Linked DNA regions of Homo sapiens: all the other regions are reported to be linked to region 4. Evidence: microRNA targets listed by miRTarBase, many of them from high-throughput screens and not tested one by one. Region 4 holds a microRNA gene; each other region holds the end of a gene's coding sequence.

Evidence for each region. The annotated mature microRNA hsa-miR-1246 reads AAUGGAUUUUUGGAGCAGG and lies in region 4 at 2,682-2,700, opposite strand. An mRNA with a match to its seed (bases 2 to 7 or 8) in the 3' UTR can be bound and repressed. Matches are read on the target gene's strand: a 7mer-m8 pairs with bases 2 to 8, a 7mer-A1 pairs with bases 2 to 7 and ends in A, and an 8mer does both.
Region 1: miRTarBase lists PTPRD as a target of hsa-miR-1246. Seed matches in the 3' UTR shown: 7mer-A1 at 1,498-1,504.
Region 2: the mRNA of CKS2 is a reported target of hsa-miR-1246. Seed matches in the 3' UTR shown: 7mer-A1 at 4,482-4,488.
Region 3: miRTarBase lists SRRT as a target of hsa-miR-1246. Seed matches in the 3' UTR shown: 7mer-A1 at 4,191-4,197.

Annotation. Positions count from the first base shown.
Region 1 is chr9:8,313,319-8,318,469 of GRCh38, reverse strand. It overlaps PTPRD (protein tyrosine phosphatase receptor type D), which reads left to right. Exons shown (of 46, transcript NM_002839.4): 46 at 528-4,224. The coding sequence ends at 596. Among named protein-coding and RNA genes, the nearest start is that of DMAC1, 520 kb to the right of the region's middle.
Region 2 is chr9:89,315,859-89,321,009 of GRCh38, reverse strand. It overlaps CKS2 (CDC28 protein kinase regulatory subunit 2), which reads right to left. Exons shown (of 3, transcript NM_001827.3): 3 at 4,307-4,637. The coding sequence ends at 4,585. SECISBP2 (SECIS binding protein 2) reads right to left here and starts at 2,510. Exons shown (of 17, transcript NM_024077.5): 1 at 2,398-2,510; 2 at 1,213-1,358. The coding sequence starts at 2,433. RefSeq lists a silencer at 2,151-2,470 and an enhancer at 2,641-2,860.
Region 3 is chr7:100,887,647-100,892,774 of GRCh38, reverse strand. It overlaps SRRT (serrate, RNA effector molecule), which reads right to left. Exons shown (of 20, transcript NM_015908.6): 17 at 4,916-5,072; 18 at 4,632-4,733; 19 at 4,392-4,518; 20 at 4,111-4,301. The coding sequence ends at 4,226. UFSP1 (UFM1 specific peptidase 1) reads left to right here and starts at 3,060. Exons shown (of 1, transcript NM_001430944.2): 1 at 3,060-4,054. The coding sequence starts at 3,276. The coding sequence ends at 3,932. It overlaps ACHE (acetylcholinesterase (Yt blood group)), which reads left to right. Exons shown (of 5, transcript NM_000665.5): 3 at 1-441; 4 at 1,437-1,606; 5 at 2,440-2,781. The coding sequence ends at 2,561. RefSeq lists enhancers at 1-80, 81-820, 1,101-1,833, 2,057-2,116, 1,834-2,567 and silencers at 1,617-1,666, 1,738-1,895, 2,987-3,036.
Region 4 is chr2:176,598,343-176,603,493 of GRCh38, forward strand. MIR1246 (microRNA 1246) reads right to left here and starts at 2,710; the gene lies at 2,638-2,710.

The DNA.
Region 1 (5,151 bases), not on the chromosome of region 4:
AGCTCTACTGTCCAAACATAATTTTTTAAAAATTCAAATTCTGTTGGCAGTAGTTCAGAAGATAAGTAAATTCAGATTTTTCTCAGGACAGTTTGTGTCTGTATCAGCCTCTCTTAAATATTTAAACTGAGAATTAGTTATCTTGAATAAGCAGATAATTGTAAAGGATGATTTTCATCATTATCTGCTTATAAGGCATGTAAGAAGTTTATGTGTTCAATTGGTGGTAATGGTTTGATACTACTTGGAAAACACTTGTCTGGGAAGGTAATGTTCACTCGACCTGCCACTGCTTGGAATTGGGAGATCGTTTTAGTCAAATTGATTGGCAAAGTTAATCAACACCCCATGTGGCTTTTTCTTTGTTCACTATAAACAATTGGTCATTGGATTAGACCAGTTGACGAAAGTAGTGATTTTGCCCCTATATAGATGTTATTTTGTTATGCAATATTGATTTTTATTTTTCTATTAAAATATGCTCATGGTCCCTTCTTTTGCTTCTCCCCATTCATTGTCTCCTGCAGGATCAATATCAGTTTTCCTATCGTGCCGCACTAGAGTACCTGGGCAGCTTTGACCACTATGCAACGTAGAAACCCCTGACCCATTCTGGATTTTTACTACAGGCCCTTCAATATCCATGGAGTCTCTTCTGAGCCATACAGGGCACTTGAGAAGTCCTTCTTAACTTCTAGCTAACAACTACTTAGTGGGACTATTACACACAAAACAAATTAAAAACAAATTATTCCAGGTGGACCAAGAATTCACAGTTTAATAATCTAACCTGAAAAATAATGAAGAGAATCCTGACTGATGAGGCATCTGAAGGATTTTATTTACAGATACCTCAAGGATTCAAAATCAAGGGAAGAAGAAATCACAGCAAAGAACCACCATCTTATTCAGGATTGCTTGAAAGGTGCAAGGAGAAATTGCCAGAATGCTGCAGTTCAGCACAAGATATGTGCTGGTGTGGCTTCTCACAATGAAACGGACTCTGCTTTGACATCGCCCCTTCCCACCATACTGCTCATAATAACATTTTAGGGGGAAAGGGGAGGGAATGTTTAAAAAGAAAGTCCTTGATTTAGTTTTTTAGTATTGTAAAGATACTGCTGACCTGTGCTTCATTTCTAACTGTGTAAACTTTTTTTTAACAAAATGTATCATTCGATAAAGTGAATTTTAAAAAAGTTACATAACTCTTCATTTTTTTATTTCCAAATCGTAGGTTTTTTTAAGCTGTAGAACTGTTATCTGTAATATCTTGCTGTAGAAATATCAAATCATTTGAAAATTTGCACATTTTTGTGCAAAACTCAATCTACAGTATCAGTCTCGTCAGATATATTAATTTTACACTTCAGTTTTGATTGGTGAGAAAGTACCCATTCTCTTCAAATAATCAAAGATAATTATTATTTTGTTTTGTTTTTGGAATCAACAGGGAGGCGCAAAGTATAAAGTTGCTGCTAACATATATACATATATATCCATATTTTATAAGGGTGTCTATGTATATATAGACAGTGTGTCCACACAAAAAATAGATACAGTTATCAGTCAGTCAGTTCTTCCATGATTTAGTTTTTTTAAACGTAGAAAAGCTATTGTAAACATCTCTTTCCATTTATTCTTAATTTTTTGACATATTGGTATTTCTTTAAAGGGAAATGAGGAATGCACATCAGTGATTGATTGTCAAACCTCACCCCCTGATTTCCTACCTAATCTACCCCCACCTAACCAATCAATCACATCCACAAATTGTTTTGTTTGTTTGTTAGTCAGGCTTCCAACAAAGTTCAATATTTCTAACACTCTAGTGCAATAAAAATTATTATTAAATAGCTAAGAGGTGTGCATGTGGGAAAGGTCAGTGCATATCCCTTTAGGAGGGGAGAATGTTGTAATATATCAGCTATCGAGTTGTTTAAAAAAAGTGTATTCAATCGTATATTGTCTATAGTATGTGCTATGAAATTTGCATTTATGATATGTAACAGGGGCAAAGCCAAATTCATGTTACTCTGTTCAGTCAGAAACATTTTGTGGCATACAGCATTCCTGGGAAGTGCTGTACTTTGTTTCGTTTTGGTTTTAGTTTTGCATTTAGAGTGCCTTATAATTGATGCCTATTTTAATAGCATTTCTTTTTAGCTTTTGGTTCGTATTTCCATTCACTGTTCGTATCTGTTACTTTCTATTAAAGCATTATCTGTTTACCACATGTACAAAAACTCTTTGAATAATATGCATTCCTAGTTTTCAGCCAAGTCGGGGATGTTAGTGATTGTACCAGCCCAAAGCACTTGGATAATCAGGGCCCTTCTTCCTTTTATAATCAATCATCAACATCAGAAAAAGCTACTTGTTTTATTTATATTCCCTTCCAAATCCGCTCTGGAACATGCAGTAACTGCACCAAACTTATTTTAGTAACAAATATCATTGGCAACTTTGGAATATATTTGATATTCCATTAGGATTTTTCTAAAAGGGGAAATAAACTATATATATATATGTATCTTACCCCCAATTCTTCCAACAGAATTTCTATAGGAAGCCATGGATGATGGCATAAGTTTGCCACATATTACATGATTTTAAATAATCCTCAAAATACCCAAGGAACTCTTAAAGAGTTTTGGTATGAGTATACTACTTTGGTTTAATTTTAGCTTCATGGATGTTCTGCATGGAAGGATTTTTGTTTTCCACATTTTCCCATTGCTAGCAGAGTGAAATCCAAGAGACCAAACATTTGCAAGCATTGTATTTGAGCACTTTTGTAAAAAACAAAGAAAAAGAAAAAAAAGAAAATATATATAATACTAAAAAAAAGTATCTAGAAGGCTACCTCAGAATGAGACTCTCTAACCTACATCAGAACCAGAGAAGAATGTGCACTATGTGGGTCTGTTATCATTATTTTCTTTTAGTTTGTATCTTTTTGGAGATTTATCCAAGTGCCAGATTACTCAGTGCTATAATTTTCTTTTAGTTAAACAAAGGGGGTCAGACAGACATTGCATCATCCAGACATGCCTTGTTGGACATGTAGAATCCGATGGAGCACTGCACACCAGAATGATTGGCCAATGAGCAGCTTCTCTCCCTGAAACAATAACTGCCCATTTGGCAAAGGGAAAGATGACAATAATCAGAAGAAGAAAATGAATGGGATGCATACCATAGACGAACGAGGCGGAGACTATTGCGGGAATCTTACTGTTCAGGAGCTGTTCCTAGAACTAACTCCCTTACTGTCATTGATGTGCATTCCACTCTGTGCTTTTCTGTACAACCATTCAAGTTTTAATTTCCCAGGTGAACCATCTTTATCTGCCATTACCACAAGCTTTCAAGTTTCCAGTTATTTTCATCATCATAACCAGTACGGTGCTATTATTTACCTATGTACGTGTAGTTATGTATAATTTTGTAATTAGTTACAATGGTAAAAAAAATCAAAATATATAAAAAGTGATTTGTACAGAACTTTATTTTAGCTCTTTTTTAAAAATGATTTGCATGGTTAGAAAACGGCGAGGACAGCCAGGGGAGGGAAGGGCCTCTAGGGAACTTTGCACTTTCTATACCTTTGTACTATGCACTGCCCTATTGATTCTACACCCAATAATGATATTACTTGAACCCATCTGTAAGAAACTGCTTCGGAAATTCATTTGTGTGTATGTAAATAACACAACATAGAAACAGGAAGGGAAAAAAGTCTGCAGTAATGCACGTATTTTTTTTCTTTCCTGTTTATTTTCGGTTTTGCTTTAAGTCCTTTTATTTTTAATTCCCTTTTTGTTTTTCTTTTTGGGTTTTGGTTCCTTTTGGGTTTATGGGTGCCCTGATACTCCAGCAGAGATCAGAAGGCTACAGATCCATTCTATCCATCCGTTATGTGGCTTTGCCATCCCAGCTTGGAGTGTCTTTACAAAGATAATAACAGTTGTGTTCTTTGCTCTCGTTTTGGATGCATAGACTGAAAAATTAAAACAAATAACTTGTAAAATGGCTTGTTAAAAAATACAATTACCTCTAATTAGTAGTACGCGTAAATGTTTTACAGAATGAAAGGCGTGCTTTTTATTTTCTTACTTCGTTACATTGGTGGCGAAAGAAGTCTGTATGAAAATCAGTTCTTTGCTGACACAAGTTCCATTTGTTACAAATGAATTCTAATAAAAATGTCAGTGTTATGCAGCCCTGGCCTTTGCTTTTGTCCATGCAAACACTTTGGTTTTGAACTGACTATTTGTTCTCTCTTCTCTTCTGGTTATCTAGTTAGTTCCTTGTACTAGTAAGAATTCTGTTTACCGAGAGACTACTGTTTACAAATATCTACCTTGAGGTAAGCACTTTTCACTGGTAAGCAAACAGAGACTCAGAGAAATAGTTTTTCCAAGTTCACAGAACAAAGAGGCATTGCTTTCATTCATATCAGAGATCACAGGCAATCTTTGATTCTGTGGAAGATTACTATATAGAAATTTAAGTGCACAACTGTATATATACATCTATATGTATGTATGTATTTTCATCTCGAAACAACTTTCATGCACATAAAAATAGCTCCATAGTGTTAATTTATTCATACCTTTGGGAACATGGCTAAGAAAATACTTGGTTTGCGTTATTTATTCAGTAATTCAATATGATCAAGTACCAATAATGGGTCAGAATTGTTCTAGGTATTGGAAATGCAGCTCTGAACAAATGAGATACTGCTGCTGTTTGCATACAGACTACAGTCTACTGAGAGAGGTTGGCACTGAAGTAATAGTAACATCACATGGGACCAGTGCTATGAAGGAAAGTGTAGGATCCTTGAAGTTAGGACTTTCAATTGTGAGTGACAGAAAGTCTGACTCAAATTGGTCTACAGGAAAAGAAAGGCGTTTACTGACTCATGTACTAAAAGATTAGGAATGGACTCATTTACTAGAAGAGTAGGAATACATCATCTTCAGGCATAACTTGATTCAGGGCTCAGTGATGCCTTCAGGACGTGATGTCTCTTCCCATCATCCAGCCTGATTCTACTTTCACAGTTTCAATTTTAAACTCCCTTTTTGTAGTCCCTGGAAGCTTTGGGATCATAACACCACAGAGCAGACAAGTGGAAGAGTT
Region 2 (5,151 bases), not on the chromosome of region 4:
TCATTTTCTTATTCATTACAATTCTCATTCTTGCAAATATAATTCTAGAATTTATATACAGTACAAACTATTTTCAATTACATCATGCAGGCACAAATAAAAGGAAACAAGTTAGAATCATATCAAAGAAGAAAAAAGCATTAGGATTCTTAGATTAGAACTACACCTGATGCAAATCTTAAAAACAGATCTACAAATAAATCTACACAATTATGTGAAAGATTAATACTTTTTTTGTCTAAATTCAGCTGCAAGAGGAAGCCATTTTGTAAACCTAGAGAATGAATCCTGAGAAGGAAAAAGAAAATGTAAGGAAAAATGTAAGCCTTCTTTCAACTCAAATTTAGAAGAACTTAAGCCTGAAATGTGTAAAATTCATCTCCATATTAACAGATATAAAGTAAAAAGGTGGAAAGCAAAAGTCAACAATTTCCAAAAAATTATCCACACAGAGGCAGCTATGGTTGCTAGTCCCCTCCCCTTCGCTCAACAAGATTTTAAAATGTTAACCTTAAAAAGGAGGAGTACGTTTATTTGGTCCTTTCTTTGCCCTTCCCTCCACATTTCATCTCCCATTAGATATATGATATATTTTTAAACCATATGAACAAATGAACCTTGAAACGGGATTTTTTTTTTTTTTTTTTTTTTTTTGAGACAGAGTCTCACTCTGTCAGCCAGGCTTGAGTGTAGTGGTGCTATCTTGGCCCACTGCAACCTCTGCCTCCCAGGTTCAAAGGATTCTGCTGCCCCAGTCTCCCGAATACCTGGGATTACAGGTGTCCGCCACCATACCTGATTAATTTTTGTATTTTTGTGGAGACGGAGTTTCACCATGTTGGTCACACTGGTCTTGAACTCCTGACCTCAGGTGATCCACCCACCTCGGCCTCCCAAAGTGCTGGGATTACAGGCGTGAGCCACAGCGCCTGGCCTGAAACTGCATTTCTTATTAACAAATGCAATGCAGTCTCTACTATTTCTTTGCCGAAAATAACAATGAGTATGAAGAAAAAAAAGGGGAGTTAAAGCTTCTGTTTTTGGCACAGGATACAGTTAAGTTGTGCTACTGGCTCAGACTCTTCTTGGTTGAAGAGCATTCTCTCATCATCTGCAGAACTTTAGTGCAGTAACTGCTGAGTATTTGAAAGTCTAATCACCATTAAATCCAAAATGTAAGCCCCTAGGTAAGACTTTTAGAAAGATACATACTCTGTCACTGGTGGTTCCTGAACAAACGGATAGTATGTGGCTGCAGAGCTGGGGAAGACACATGCTTCTGAGGACTCTAACCATGCCACATTGAGCCCGGCAAATCTGGGGACAAATGGTTTGACATCTGCTGATAACTTGATGCCCTGAGGAAAAATATGAGGTTTTGGCCACAAACATTCAGAGATCAAGCAAATATAAACAAACAAAAAGACCCAAGAGGTGTTCCTAATAGCCCCAGAAATGTTCCCGATGTTGTTTAAAAACTTCTGCCTCGTAAAGACAAGAACCTGCTTGCTAACGATTTCTCCCCAATGCTTTTTTTTTTGTAGAAAAGGCAGTAGTTCAAACATTAAAAGTGAAAAATGACAACGAATTCAAGTGGAAATAAAACAACACAGATTATATAGTTTAGATCTTGGAATAAGGGTGTTTTTACCACAGATTCACTTAGAAATAATAGAACTGCACACAGTACAACTACTGCAGTCAAATACACGTGGACTGTTTAACTACAGCACCCAAAACACACTGCAGACGTTTATTTCCATTACATTTTCTTGAAAAAGTTGCACAAAAGCATATGCATTTTACTCATGAACCACTAAGTCTTGCTTTATTGAAATACCAAACCTTGCTTTGCTAGAAAATATTATCACCACGAGCCTTTGAAATTTCAATTCACTAAGATTTCTTTCTTTAGTTTTTAGTGACGTAGTAAGAGATTTACTTTCACCGAGAATTTTATGGGTCTAAAAATGATGCAAGCGATCGCCAGGGCTCCATCTAGTGGTAATGCTGAGTACGTAGAGCGGAGAATGACGTTCAGAAAAACGCAGGATCCTTTAAAACAATCTATCCGTTCCCAAGAGCGCGGGAAGCTCGCCAGAGTCCCCCCGCCCCGACTGCGGGGAGCGCCGGGCTGGGCCGCAGTCACTGCGCTGGGTGACATCGCACCACAGACGCGGCGCTAACTGTGGGCGGGGTCTGTAGCCGCTGACCGCCACCCCAAGGCGGACCCGAGGCGGGGCGCGAAGATCGCGGCCACCCGGTAGGGCGCTCCCGTGCCGTCACCAGCATCCGACCCACGCCCGCTGGACCAGCCCCGTCACCGCCCGGCCGAGCCCCCAGTGCGAGGCAGGCGGACGGACTGAGGCTGCCGAGAGAGCCCCCGTCGGCCCTTACCTCGCTTTCGGGCTCCCGCGGCCCCTCCGACGCCATGCCGCGAGGCGCGGAGGAGGCCGCGTCACGGAGGCCAGCAGCGGGCCGTCGGCTTGCCGGACAGACAAAGCGTTTCCGCCCCCGCAGGCGACGCCAGGAAGTGCGTCACAGCAAAGCGACAGAGCCCGCCCTTTCTTCCGGCCGGAAGTACGCGGCGGCGGCACTGGACCTGCGCGGGCAGCACGTGGAGGCAGTGGGGCGCTTGCGGAAAATGGGGACCCCCAGGAGTCCTCTGGGCTGGGGACCCACCGTAGCTTGCGGGAGTCTTGGATCTGCCTTTTAGTGCTGGGATATCGGAGATAGTCTCCACCAAGGCAGTAGCGACTATAAACAAGAGTTAGGCCGTGATTTACTTTTCTCCCCTGGGCCTCACGAGTCTAGCGTTAGGACGGGATGGGGTAGTCTGGAAAGGCCTCTCGCTGAGGTGACCTTTGAGCAGTCACCTGAAGAGAAAGATTTACTAATAAGGAAACTGAGGAGGCCGAGATTACTCTCACCCCCGCCACTGCATTTCCCTAAAATTTCCCCAAGATTGGTGACTTACAGGAATTGCATACCCTGTAGGTCCTACAAACCTGGAAAGCCTACAAGACTCTTGATGGTATCCTAAATTTCCAGAAACCTTAAGTTTGGAAGTAGCCACAGAAAATAATTTAAAAATCGCTCGGTTTCTTTCAAAAATTAAAAAAAGTGCTAAGATATGGTCAAGAGATGGAATAGTATAATTTTCACGAGAAAAAAAAAGTTCTACACAGAGCAAATTCGTTAAATATTGAGAGAAATGTATAAAGTGCGGCAGGGATAGGAGGTTGACCAAAAGTACAGGGAAGAATGCAGAGTGGATTTCAATAGATGGAGGAGGAACTTTCCTCTCACTCAAAGGCTTGGAGGAAAGTGCAAGTGGATTTAAGGAACAGAAAATGTCAGCAAAACAGGCTATTTGAGGAATGGGGATTAGGTTGAGGCAAATTGTAGGTTTCCTCTGTCCCTTGCACAGACGTTAACTCTACCATTGAATACGAAGTATTTCAAGCAAGTAAGGCAGGTGCAGCTCCAGTTTTTTCAGATTTCTGTCCTGGTGGGTCTCAGTTCACTACACAGCCTCTAGCAGAAGTGATCCTTAGGGTCTGGTCTGGCAGGAATTTATGCTGGAAGTTTAGGGGTAGCTGTCGCCTTCCTTTCAGCACTATTGGGTCTACCCGGAAGTGTAATGAAGTTTACTTGATTTTGTCATGTTTCTGTTGGTTACCCTGGACACAACCTATGGTAGTGGCAGTAGATTTTAGGATGCTGCTAATCACAACCTTCAAAATTTATTGCCCTCATGTGTAAAGACACCCTTTCTTAACCAATGGACCTGATGTATGCTGGCTGCTCATTTAAGATGTTTCTATAGCATAGCAATTAATTAGAATAACTCCAAAACACTTTCCTAGCAGCTAAAAAGGCAAAGGTGTTTTACAGTGTTTTTGAACTTTTAAAAATGTGGTGATACTTTATAGGAAACATTATCCCTACTTTGGAAATGTAGAAGAGGATAAAAAAGAGGTTTCTCCCAAGACCACCAGTGGCCAGTGAAGTAGCCCAGATAGTATTAATTTGGGCTTTCCTGTTCTAGACAATTCTCCAGGAATTCAAGAGGTAAAATCTACTTTGGCTTTAGTTTAAACATATCCCTGGTAATTAATTTCTTCATTAAGTGAATTAAATGGTATCCAGATCATACCGCACTATTTTAAACTCATTTAACATCATCTTTAAGGTAAGTTAACTTCCTCAGAGCTAAAACTATAACACTGAAATCAATTTCAATAGTCACAAATTTCAATAGTCACAAATTAAGAAAATATACCTCAAAAACTTGAAACAGTGATAAATGCAACATACAAACTTTATTGAACAAAAGTAAACTGTTTCAGTAAACTCAAACAGGCACTTAAGAGAAAAACTGACTGGAAGAACTTTTATCTTAAACATCTTACAGTAACCTACTTGCAGTTGCATTTAACTGAGCTCTGTTGCTGTGAAGAATACAGCTCATGCACAGGTATGGATGAAAGATTTGTACATTTCTCAAGTATTCACTGAATACTACCTTATATACACATATACATTAAATTTGAAAAAGATTTGACGATCCCCAGATAAACTTCATTTTTGTTGATCTTTTGGAAGAGGTCGTCTAAAGAGAAGAATATGTGGTTCTGTGGAAAGAAAATGTTTTGAATCATTTTAATATGATTTTCATATACTCAACAGAAATTCAAAAGTATTCTCAACTAAGCCAGAATAAAATAAACTAAGTCCACTATTAATTGGTTTGAGGTATCCAAAATGATTTTTTTTTCACAGTTACTGTCTACAGTAAATAGATTAAAAGTAAAAAGATTACCTCTTTATAGGGAAAAACACCTCCTTCAAATCACCTACAGGATCTCATACTAATGCTCATCCCCATAGATTCTGTTTCAATAGGTGGGGCACAGAAATCTACACTTAAGTTCTTCAGTTGCTTTTGTATTATCTGGACTGAATTCTAATAGGATTACGTATCTCAATCCCAAGAAAGTGATGAGTCCTTTTAGAGTTTTCGATGCAATGCTTTTCTTTAACAGCAGAGTAGAAGATAGTTTTAATTCCACCTACTTCAGCTTCTATAGTATGTCTTCAAATTTTGTTCAAAGCATTATAAATGCTGTTAGATTTACTGATAATCCA
Region 3 (5,128 bases), not on the chromosome of region 4:
TTACGGGGCCCCAGGCTTCAGCAAAGACAACGAGTCTCTCATCAGCCGGGCCGAGTTCCTGGCCGGGGTGCGGGTCGGGGTTCCCCAGGTAAGTGACCTGGCAGCCGAGGCTGTGGTCCTGCATTACACAGACTGGCTGCATCCCGAGGACCCGGCACGCCTGAGGGAGGCCCTGAGCGATGTGGTGGGCGACCACAATGTCGTGTGCCCCGTGGCCCAGCTGGCTGGGCGACTGGCTGCCCAGGGTGCCCGGGTCTACGCCTACGTCTTTGAACACCGTGCTTCCACGCTCTCCTGGCCCCTGTGGATGGGGGTGCCCCACGGCTACGAGATCGAGTTCATCTTTGGGATCCCCCTGGACCCCTCTCGAAACTACACGGCAGAGGAGAAAATCTTCGCCCAGCGACTGATGCGATACTGGGCCAACTTTGCCCGCACAGGGTCAGCAGTGCAGAGGGAGAGAAGGCTGGGGAGGACAGGAGTCGGGGGCGGGAGGACACACAAAGGCAGACACACGGAGACAGAAAGGACGGGTGGGACAGGGGCAGGATAGAACAGCCAGAGAGGGATATGCTCACAAAGTAGATAAAAGGGGAGAGAAAAAGAAAGGAGACAGAGAAGGCAGAGGGGGTCTTGCAGAGACAGAGGCAAAGGAAAGTGAGGAGGAGACGAGGTAGACATGGAGGGGGCGGGGCACAGTGGCTCACCCCTGTAATTCCAGCCCTTTGGGAGGCCAAGGTGGGAGGATCCCCTGAGGCCAGGAGTTTGAGACCAGACTGGACAACATAACAAGACCCCGACTCTTAAAAAGAAAAAAAATACAAAACTTAGCCAGGCACGGTGGCTCGTGCCTCTAGTCCCAGCTACTTGGGAAGGTGAGGCAGGAGGATTGCTTGAGCCTGGGAGGTTGAGGCTGCAGTGAGCTATGATGGCACCACTGCACTCCAGCCTGAGTGGCCCTATCTCTGGAAAAAAAAAAAAAAAAAAAAAAGGGAGACCAAGACAAAGGAGTTGGAGCTGGATTAAGTCAAACCAGTGATGATTCACTAGCAGTGACACATTCTCTCACACACACACCAGTTTACCTGGATCGAGAAGAGGACAATGAAATCTAGCATTGGATGGGTGTTGTTAAAAAATGTGATGTTTGTAGACATAGGACCCGTCCTGGTTATTTAGGAAAGTCTCAAGACATCCTAGCCATTTTTTTAGTGAGAGAAACAAAGATGGAACAGAAAAGCTGAGGGAAACGGAAGGAGACGGAGCGCTTGAGGAAGGGAAGACCCCAATGACCGCGCACATTGGAGAAAGTGGTGGGAGGGAGGGGACGGGTTCTCTGGGGCTCTCCGCTGAGCTGAAGAGTCCGGGATCCCGTGGAGTTGGGGGCCACCTCCTCCCACTGCCCGTCTGGACTGAGCCTTCCCTTCCTTCCGCAGGGATCCCAATGAGCCCCGAGACCCCAAGGCCCCACAATGGCCCCCGTACACGGCGGGGGCTCAGCAGTACGTTAGTCTGGACCTGCGGCCGCTGGAGGTGCGGCGGGGGCTGCGCGCCCAGGCCTGCGCCTTCTGGAACCGCTTCCTCCCCAAATTGCTCAGCGCCACCGGTATGCAGGGGCCAGCGGGCAGCGGCTGGGAGGAGGGGAGTGGGAGCCCGCCAGGTGTAACCCCTCTCTTCTCCCCCTAGCCTCGGAGGCTCCCAGCACCTGCCCAGGCTTCACCCATGGGGAGGCTGCTCCGAGGCCCGGCCTCCCCCTGCCCCTCCTCCTCCTCCACCAGCTTCTCCTCCTCTTCCTCTCCCACCTCCGGCGGCTGTGAACACGGCCTCTTCCCCTACGGCCACAGGGGCCCCTCCTCTAATGAGTGGTCGGACCGTGGGGAAGGGCCCCACTCAGGGATCTCAGACCTAGTGCTCCCTTCCTCCTCAAACCGAGAGACTCACACTGGACAGGGCAGGAGGAGGGGGCCGTGCCTCCCACCCTTCTCAGGGACCCCCACGCCTTTGTTGTTTGAATGGAAATGGAAAAGCCAGTATTCTTTTATAAAATTATCTTTTGGAACCTGAGCCTGACATTGGGGGGAAGTGGGAGGCCCCGGACGGGGTAGCACCCCCCATTGGGGCTATAACGGTCAACCATTTCTGTCTCTTCTTTTTCCCCCAACCTCCCCCTCCTGTCCCCTCTGTTCCCGTCTTCCGGTCATTCTTTTCTCCTCCTCTCTCCTTCCTGCTGTCCTTCTCCGGCCCCGCCTCTGCCCTCATCCTCCCTCTCGTCTTTCGCACATTCTCCTGATCCTCTTGCCACCGTCCCACGTGGTCGCCTGCATTTCTCCGTGCGTCCTCCCTGCACTCATACCCCCCCTTCAACCCGCCCAAATGTCCGATCCCCGACCTTCCTCGTGCCGTCCTCCCCTCCCGCCTCGCTGGGCGCCCTGGCCGCAGACACGCTCGACGAGGCGGAGCGCCAGTGGAAGGCCGAGTTCCACCGCTGGAGCTCCTACATGGTGCACTGGAAGAACCAGTTCGACCACTACAGCAAGCAGGATCGCTGCTCAGACCTGTGACCCCGGCGGGACCCCCATGTCCTCCGCTCCGCCCGGCCCCCTAGCTGTATATACTATTTATTTCAGGGCTGGGCTATAACACAGACGAGCCCCAGACTCTGCCCATCCCCACCCCACCCCGACGTCCCCCGGGGCTCCCGGTCCTCTGCATGTCTCAGGCTGAGCTCCCTCCCCCGCGGTGCCTTCGCCCCTCTGGGCTGCCAATAAACTGTTACAGCCACGGGAGTGTGCGCGACTAGGGAGCCAGGGGTAGAGGCAGAACGCCGGAATCACGGGGGCCGAGTCTATGCAGGAGCGGGGCTGGAGGGCAAGAAACAGGCGAGCTCCGAGGCGGGCGCAAGGCAAAGGCCAACCCCTAGCCCTGCCCTGCCGGGCGGAGCTCGCGCCTGCGTAATGAGGCCCGCAGGCAGGCTAGCTGGCACGGCGGAGGGGAGGAGAGGGGAGGGGAGGGGAGGGGAGGGGAGGGGAGGGGCGGGGCGGGGCGGGGCGCGGCGGAGCATTGTGGGAGCTCCTCGGTCGGTGCCGGTCGGTGGCTGCCTATTGCGGCCTGCGGTGATCAACGAGGCCCGGGGAGCGCGTCCCCAGTCTGCGCGCCGGTCCTGCGGCAGCTGGCCCAAGACCCGGAGCCGAAAGGAAGTGTTGGAGCCTGAGGTCGCTCCGCGCCGCTAGGAGGACGCTGTGCCTGGCCTGGGACCTCCGCTCCCGCCCACCGCCCTGGAGCCGCTGAGGGACGTCCACGTGGGCCTGTCCCCGCCGAGCCGCGGCCCTGTCCGCCTGGCGCTGCTCTCGGGCCACTACCTCTACTACCACTACGGCTGCGACGGCCTGGACGACCGCGGCTGGGGCTGCGGCTACCGCACTCTGCAGACGCTGTGCTCGTGGCCAGAGGGCCAGCCCGCGGGCGTACCTGGACTGGCCGCCGTACAGGCGGCCCTGGAGGACATGGGCGACAAGCCCCCCGGCTTCCGGGGCTCCCGGGACTGGATCGGCTGCGTGGAGGCCAGCCTCTGCCTCGCTCACTTCGGAGGGCCCCAGGGACGCCTCTGCCACGTACCCCGGGGAGTGGGGCTGCACGGGGAGCTGGAGAGGCTTTACTCGCACTTCGCAGGGGGTGGGGGCCCAGTCATGGTTGGGGGGGACGCAGATGCCAGGTCCAAGGCCTTGCTGGGAGTCTGCGTAGGGTCAGGCACGGAAGCCTATGTCCTGGTATTGGACCCTCACTACTGGGGCACTCCAAAAAGCCCCAGTGAACTACAGGCTGCTGGGTGGGTGGGCTGGCAAGAGGTGAGTGCAGCCTTTGACCCCAACTCCTTCTACAACCTGTGCTTGACCAGCCTTAGCTCCCAACAGCAGCAGCGCACCTTGGACTGAGGACGAAGTTACAGAACTGAGATTCTCGGGTCCCAGACACGCACCTATGTACCTCCCACTGGTGTCCCTGCAAAGCCTGGCGCTTTTGACATCAATAATAAAAGTGGCAGGGCTGAGCAACACCTCAGGAGTTACTCTGGAAGGATGGAGGAGTTATGTAACACACGAGAGTCAGGAGCCCTGTGGAAGTGCTTTTATTAGCAGTAAGGCTGATCGTACAAAAAATTCTCAGAGCTTCATAGGACAAGGTAGTACAAGTATGGATGATACAGGACTGAGGAACGGGGGACGGCTCAAAAGAAATCAACATCGTCTGGGGCATCCAGGTCCCGATATTCCACAATGGCCCTTGGGTCTCCACGAACCATCCTGTGAGGTGAGAGGTACAGGATGAGAGCTGAGGGCTCCCAAAAGGGAGTCTGCAGGCGGCAACAAAGCTTGGGCGTCTGCCCTCCTCACCTGTTGCGAGGTTTCCCAGGATAACCTCCCTGGCCTCGGAAGGCATCATAGTTCCCTCGACCAGCACCATACGGGGCATGGGGGTATGGAGGGCCTCCTGTGGGGACTGCAGGGCGGACAGCACCAGCTATGACAGAGATCAGTGTTGAGTTGCAAAACTATGTCCTCAATTCCATCCTCTGTTTTCTTCTCCCAAAGCCACACACTCACCAAGCCCCTTCATCTCCCTCCTGTACTTACCTCCATAGCCCAAGATCGGGGGCCGGGGCTGACCATAGGGCATCAGGCCCTGGGGAGTCTGGTGTGGGTAGGGGAGTCCTGGGGTCAAACCTGGGGGGAGTACAACACGGACAGGGACATGAATTACTGCGGGGGCGGGGAGGGGGATACGGGTACAATTGACTTCTAGGGCTATGGCCTGAGGATGGGGCAGAAACTTCTCGGGGTGACACGTTAAAGAGAAACAGGAGTCCCTGGGTAGTCAAGGAAGAGGGCACATGCGACCTTCATGGATCGTATCTTACTCTGGGCGGGGCCAGGTGGCTGGGCTGGCTTGATCTCAGGCAGAGCTGGGCGCTTAGCATCAGTGAGGAAGTTGTTAAAAAACGCGACTTCCTTTTTCACTTCCTCAATTTTCTCTGCATGCTTGTTGAAGATATGTTTGCGCACAAACTCAGGACCCTGGGTGGAGAGAGGAGAGGGGTCAGGACAGCCACATAAGGGTTGCCTCGCTCCCA
Region 4 (5,151 bases):
AATGGAAAATTTCTAAAAGCAGAAAGCTCTCATACTCTATACTGCACTGTGGATTTTGTTCCCATGGACATTGGCTATGTAATTATATTTTATATTTGGTAGTGGATAAATAATTAAAATGAGAATTACTTTCCTGAAAAGATTCATTTAGAGCACACATTTTCTATTACCATAGCTGTTAGATAGGGGAGGGGACATTGCCTCCTACCTACCTAAACTACCTTGCCATTAAAGTATCTAAATTACCTCGGTGAATTCTGACCACAGAAGTGGTTGATGAATTGCTTTTGCATAAATGCGCTTTCCCTTTGCTAGAATCTAATTTTATGAAACACACTCATGTGTGTGCCCACATGCACACACACACTCACCAAGAGACACACATATACCAAAGCAACCACTGAACCCTCTCAAGAAGAAAAATTGAAGGCTGGAATTTTCTCTATATAATGAAGTTTTTTTAAATGTTGCCAGTAATATAAGCATTGCTGAGGAAAGCCCAAATGGTTTCATCTCCTGTAGGCAAGAGCAGTTCATGAATCATTGTTTCCATGCAAAAGTGTTTCATTCCTTTAACTGGTGCTATCAATTGTACTGGCTGAATTTTTTTTTTTTAAAGTATCAAAATTTGATTCTGGCTTAAACTCATTTCTTACAAGTAGGGAAAAAAATCTTTCTGCAGAGTAAGCCCAAAAGCCATTCCGTGGATGAAAGGGTCTGAAAATCCCATCCCTTTTGTCATTATGATGTGTTTAAAAGCTTTGATCCATCATAGGCAAGCCCAGCAGCCAAGGAGGGTTCTTAAGCAGCTATATCTCTCACTTGGCGCAGATGTATTTTTATTTGTTAATTAGAAGCATTTATTATAGTTGCCATGTATTCTTGCTGCATGTGTTAGACTAGGAAAGAATACAGTATCTGAGCCCCAAGATATGATGTGGTGGAATAATTCGTGTTAGGTATTATCTCAAGGTAGTGTCATTTTTGTTTGTGTCCCTGAGAAGGGAGAAGATGACTTTAGTCCCCCAGTGTCAAGGATAACCAGCCGTTCATAAGATGAGAGTTGGAGCAACTGCTCTAAGGAATCTGAAGACAAACAGGCTGGCGGAAAGGAAGTCACCTCCAGTGCTCTAAGTCAGAGCCTCTCTGATTCGCCTGTCTCCATTATTGCACAGCACATGATGAGTCTGACTTTGAGAGATAAGTTGGCCAAAGTGGAGGAATGCCACATGCCTAGGCCACTTTCTCTGCCTAACTTTCGATCACTTACCATGAACAAGCTGAAGAAACTTACTCCTCAAACTGGCCTTTGCTCAAGTTCATAAAGCACTTCAAAGAAAGAAAATGACTCCTGTATATGAATGTTGTTGCAATTAATAACTGCCCATTTTTTATTTCTAAGCTATCTTTAATTTGGTGGTTGAGGCCTATGAATATGCCCAAGAGATCATGAACAAGACACAATTTCTGCCTTCAAGAACCTTAAAATTGAAAAATCACGACGAAAAAAAACAAAGCCCTCTGATCTGGTTTGGATTTGTGTCCCCACCCAAATCTCATGTCAAATTGTGATCCCCAGTGTTGGAGGAGGGTCCTGGTGGGAGTTGATTAGATCATGAGGCGACATCCCCCCTGCTGTTCTTGTGATAATGAGTAAGTTCTCACAAGATCTGGTTGTTTAGAAATGCGTAACAGCTCCCTTTTTGCCCTCTCCCTCCTGCTCTGGCCTGCTTTCCCTTCGCCTTTCGCCATGATTGTAAGTTTTCTGCAGCCTCCCCAGTCATATTCCCTGTACAGCCTGTGGAGCTGTGAGTCAATTAAACCTCTTTTCTTTGTAAATTACCCAGTCTCAGGCAGTTCTTTATAGCAAAGCAAGAACAGACTAATACACCCTCTACCCAGTCTCTCAGTCTATAATCCCTCTTGATGTCACGCTGCTGCAAGTGAGGATGAGAAATTGGAGAACAGGTGTGTGTCATTCACGATGGGCTTCATCACAGCGTCTACCACAGCGTATTTTGCTACACTGACAGCATTACCATCACTTATGTGTACTGATTTATATGCCAAAGAAAGATCACTGGGGTGTGGTGTGTACCTTGCCTTATATCACCAACATGTAACTTTGATATTTCTTCTTCATAACAAAAAAGAAAAATTATTTAATTTCTCTAATTTTTGTTACAAAGTAAAGTAACATCCTACAAAGCAGGTTTTGATCATTTCTGGCAGCAATCAGTTTTCTTCTCTACTTTAATTCAAGAGTAAATTTTGTTTTCGAATGAATGAATAAGTGAATTGTAGCTGGTACTATGATCCACCCACCTGTACTTCTTTTTGACTCTGATAGTGAATAGAAGTTTACAAAAGTTTACCCTCCTAGTTTGGCCTTAAAAACATAGAACCTTGGTTTCAGGGCTATTTGACTGCTGCTTTAGCTAAACAATAGCAATAATTAACCATTACTATGTCCCATGTCATAGGTACCATGCCTGGCACATCATTTGCTGTATCTCATTCAGTGTTTGCAATAGCCCTTTGAGTTAGGTATTGTTATTTTTCCGTTTTACAAAGAGAGAAGTAGGATTCAGCAAAACTCGATAACGATCAAATGCTACAAAAACAAAAAATAGGTTGATTGCTAGCCTATGGATTGATTTCCTTTGGGTCAGGTGTCCACTCCTGCTCCAAAAATCCATTCAAGGATACAAATCTGACCGCCTCCAAATGCAATGTCTCTTATCTCTGCCCAGTCCTACTTCATTGATGGTTCACATTACTAAGTTCCCTTGATGTGGATTATTCTCCCTGTTAATTCTCTCGGTCCTAGAGTGACAATTGTACTTCCTTTAGCAATTAGAAAGCAGTGGTTTCCTGGGCTTGCTTCATCACCTCAAGCAAGCCTGTTAGCTACTGCTCTTAGCAGGGGAACTGGGAACATGACGAATGATGGCCATCTGCTCCAGGAATAAACAAACTCTTCATTATTCCATTAGTGATTTTCCATTTCCTGCTAAGCCTAACAATTTATTAGCACTATTTAGGCTAATGTATGGCTGTATTATTTTACATAGTTACTTCATATTCTTCATGTGATGACATATTTAGGTGTTCAGATCCTCTGTGTGGTTTTCTGCAGACAGAATTGGATGAGTTTGAGAAGATAACTCTCCCAGCACTGGTAAGACCACCATTAATTCCTCTTTGTGGAGCAACTTTTCTCCAAGGATTTTAAAAGAAATGACCGCATGGCCATTGTGAATCAAATAGGTTTGAAATGCAATGCATTAGGAGGAAACATTTATGTGTGCTTCTCAGTCACGCTACACTGAACATAATTCTTAGGGTTGTGTTGAAAGCAGCACTAGACAAGGCCCCAGGACCCCAATTTCCAGCCCTCTACTCTGTAGGGTTTTTATGAAAATCAGCAAAGGCATGTAGGTGATGACTCTGAAAAAGTGACTCTTATCCAGACTCCTTTAAAAGAAACACCTTTATTGCAAGATCACACGTGGACTGGAATTGGAAGAAGAAAGCAAAGTCCCAGGGGATAGAGAACACTCTAGGTCTCCTCTGGCCACCTCTCTCTCTCCTTTTCAGGTGACATGTTCTTGCTCCCATTGTGTCTGTTCTCTGTGACGTTGCTGTCCTCTTGCTGTGGCCACTGCTCTCTCGACACTGACCAGCTTCTTTCTTCCATCTCTTCCAAGATTCAGAAAATGGTGGCCAAGAAGCCAAATACAGCCTGAAGTTGTGCTTTATTTGGCCAGCTTAATATTTAGATCAAATTTTGAATTTGAATGTTTTTGGCAAGGCATGTATTAATTTTTGCCACTTAGTTGCAAATCCGTACATTTACTTTTTTTCAGATGAAGGCATTCAAGTTTAAAACCACTTTATATATTTTCTCTACTTCCTTATCCTTATTCATAGTTTTCGCTACTTCTTAACTTTCTATGACTTCACATGCTGTCCACCCATCTAATAACGTGCTCTGCTACAATTGTATGTCCTGTCACTGCTAACCCTCAGTTGATCTGTTTATCTCCATTGACATTTCTGAGAAAGAACACTGCTGTCCCATATGACATAATAGGTCATTCCAAGACATCACTACTGACATGTGTATTGTAAGTGGAAAAGTTGTAGGGTATCCATTATTATTATTGTTATTCTTATGTGGTAGTATATATTAGGGCCATATAATAACTCCAACTCCAAAAAAATTTCTTTCCTGGCATATGTGATGATTTATTGCTTTGGAGTTTATCCAAAGACCTTAGCTAAGAAGCACAGCAGTTAAGCTATGGACCCATTTTTTTTACTGATGTGAACATACCCGTGGGTCTTCTGTACACATCTGTGAGGCAATAGTTTCAGGTTCAGACAAACCACTCAGGTTCTTAGTTGAGTGAGGTAGTCTGTAGGCAGAGCCAAAGCACCCTGGAGATACATGGGCAGGCACAGGTCATTTGGGGCTACCTTGAAAAGAGTTTAAAAAAACTTTTGGATACAACAAAGCCATCAGTGTTGAAGAATGTTATGTGGTCCTTACTTATGCTTACAAATTTGGCCCCTTCTTCATCTTTGATACACCTACCTTCTATTCACTCAGTCATTTGTCTGTTTTATTCTGTTCCAACCTCCTCTGCCAACATGGACTCAGATTAAAAATAAAATGAAGACAAATAAGGGAAAATAGACCATTTTCTGCTTTCTGCCAGGTCTAGGCACCAAGGCTGAATGTGTCTCTTTCAGTATCTCATTTTATAAAGAGATAAAGACCACAATTATCAGAGAAGCCAAACTACTAGACTGAAAGATTTCATAAATATTTAGACTTAACTAATAAAGTAGCATATGTTTACAAAGAATATAGTCTTGGAGATCTCATAACTAGAACTAATTAAGGTTGGGAATTAACTTTGGAAAGAACTCAAAAGCAATGAAAACAATTAGACAAATGATCTCTTAGTCCAGAAGATGCAAGATTTTGCAAGTGGCTATGACTCGGCCAATGTCTCTTAAGCTTTCTACTTTAGACATTGTACTGGAAGCTCAAGAGGCCAGATCTTAGCCCATGAGTTATCTGCCTTGGAACAATTCTAAGGGGTGTCATGAAGATAAAAGAGATAATCAATGTAAAGACAT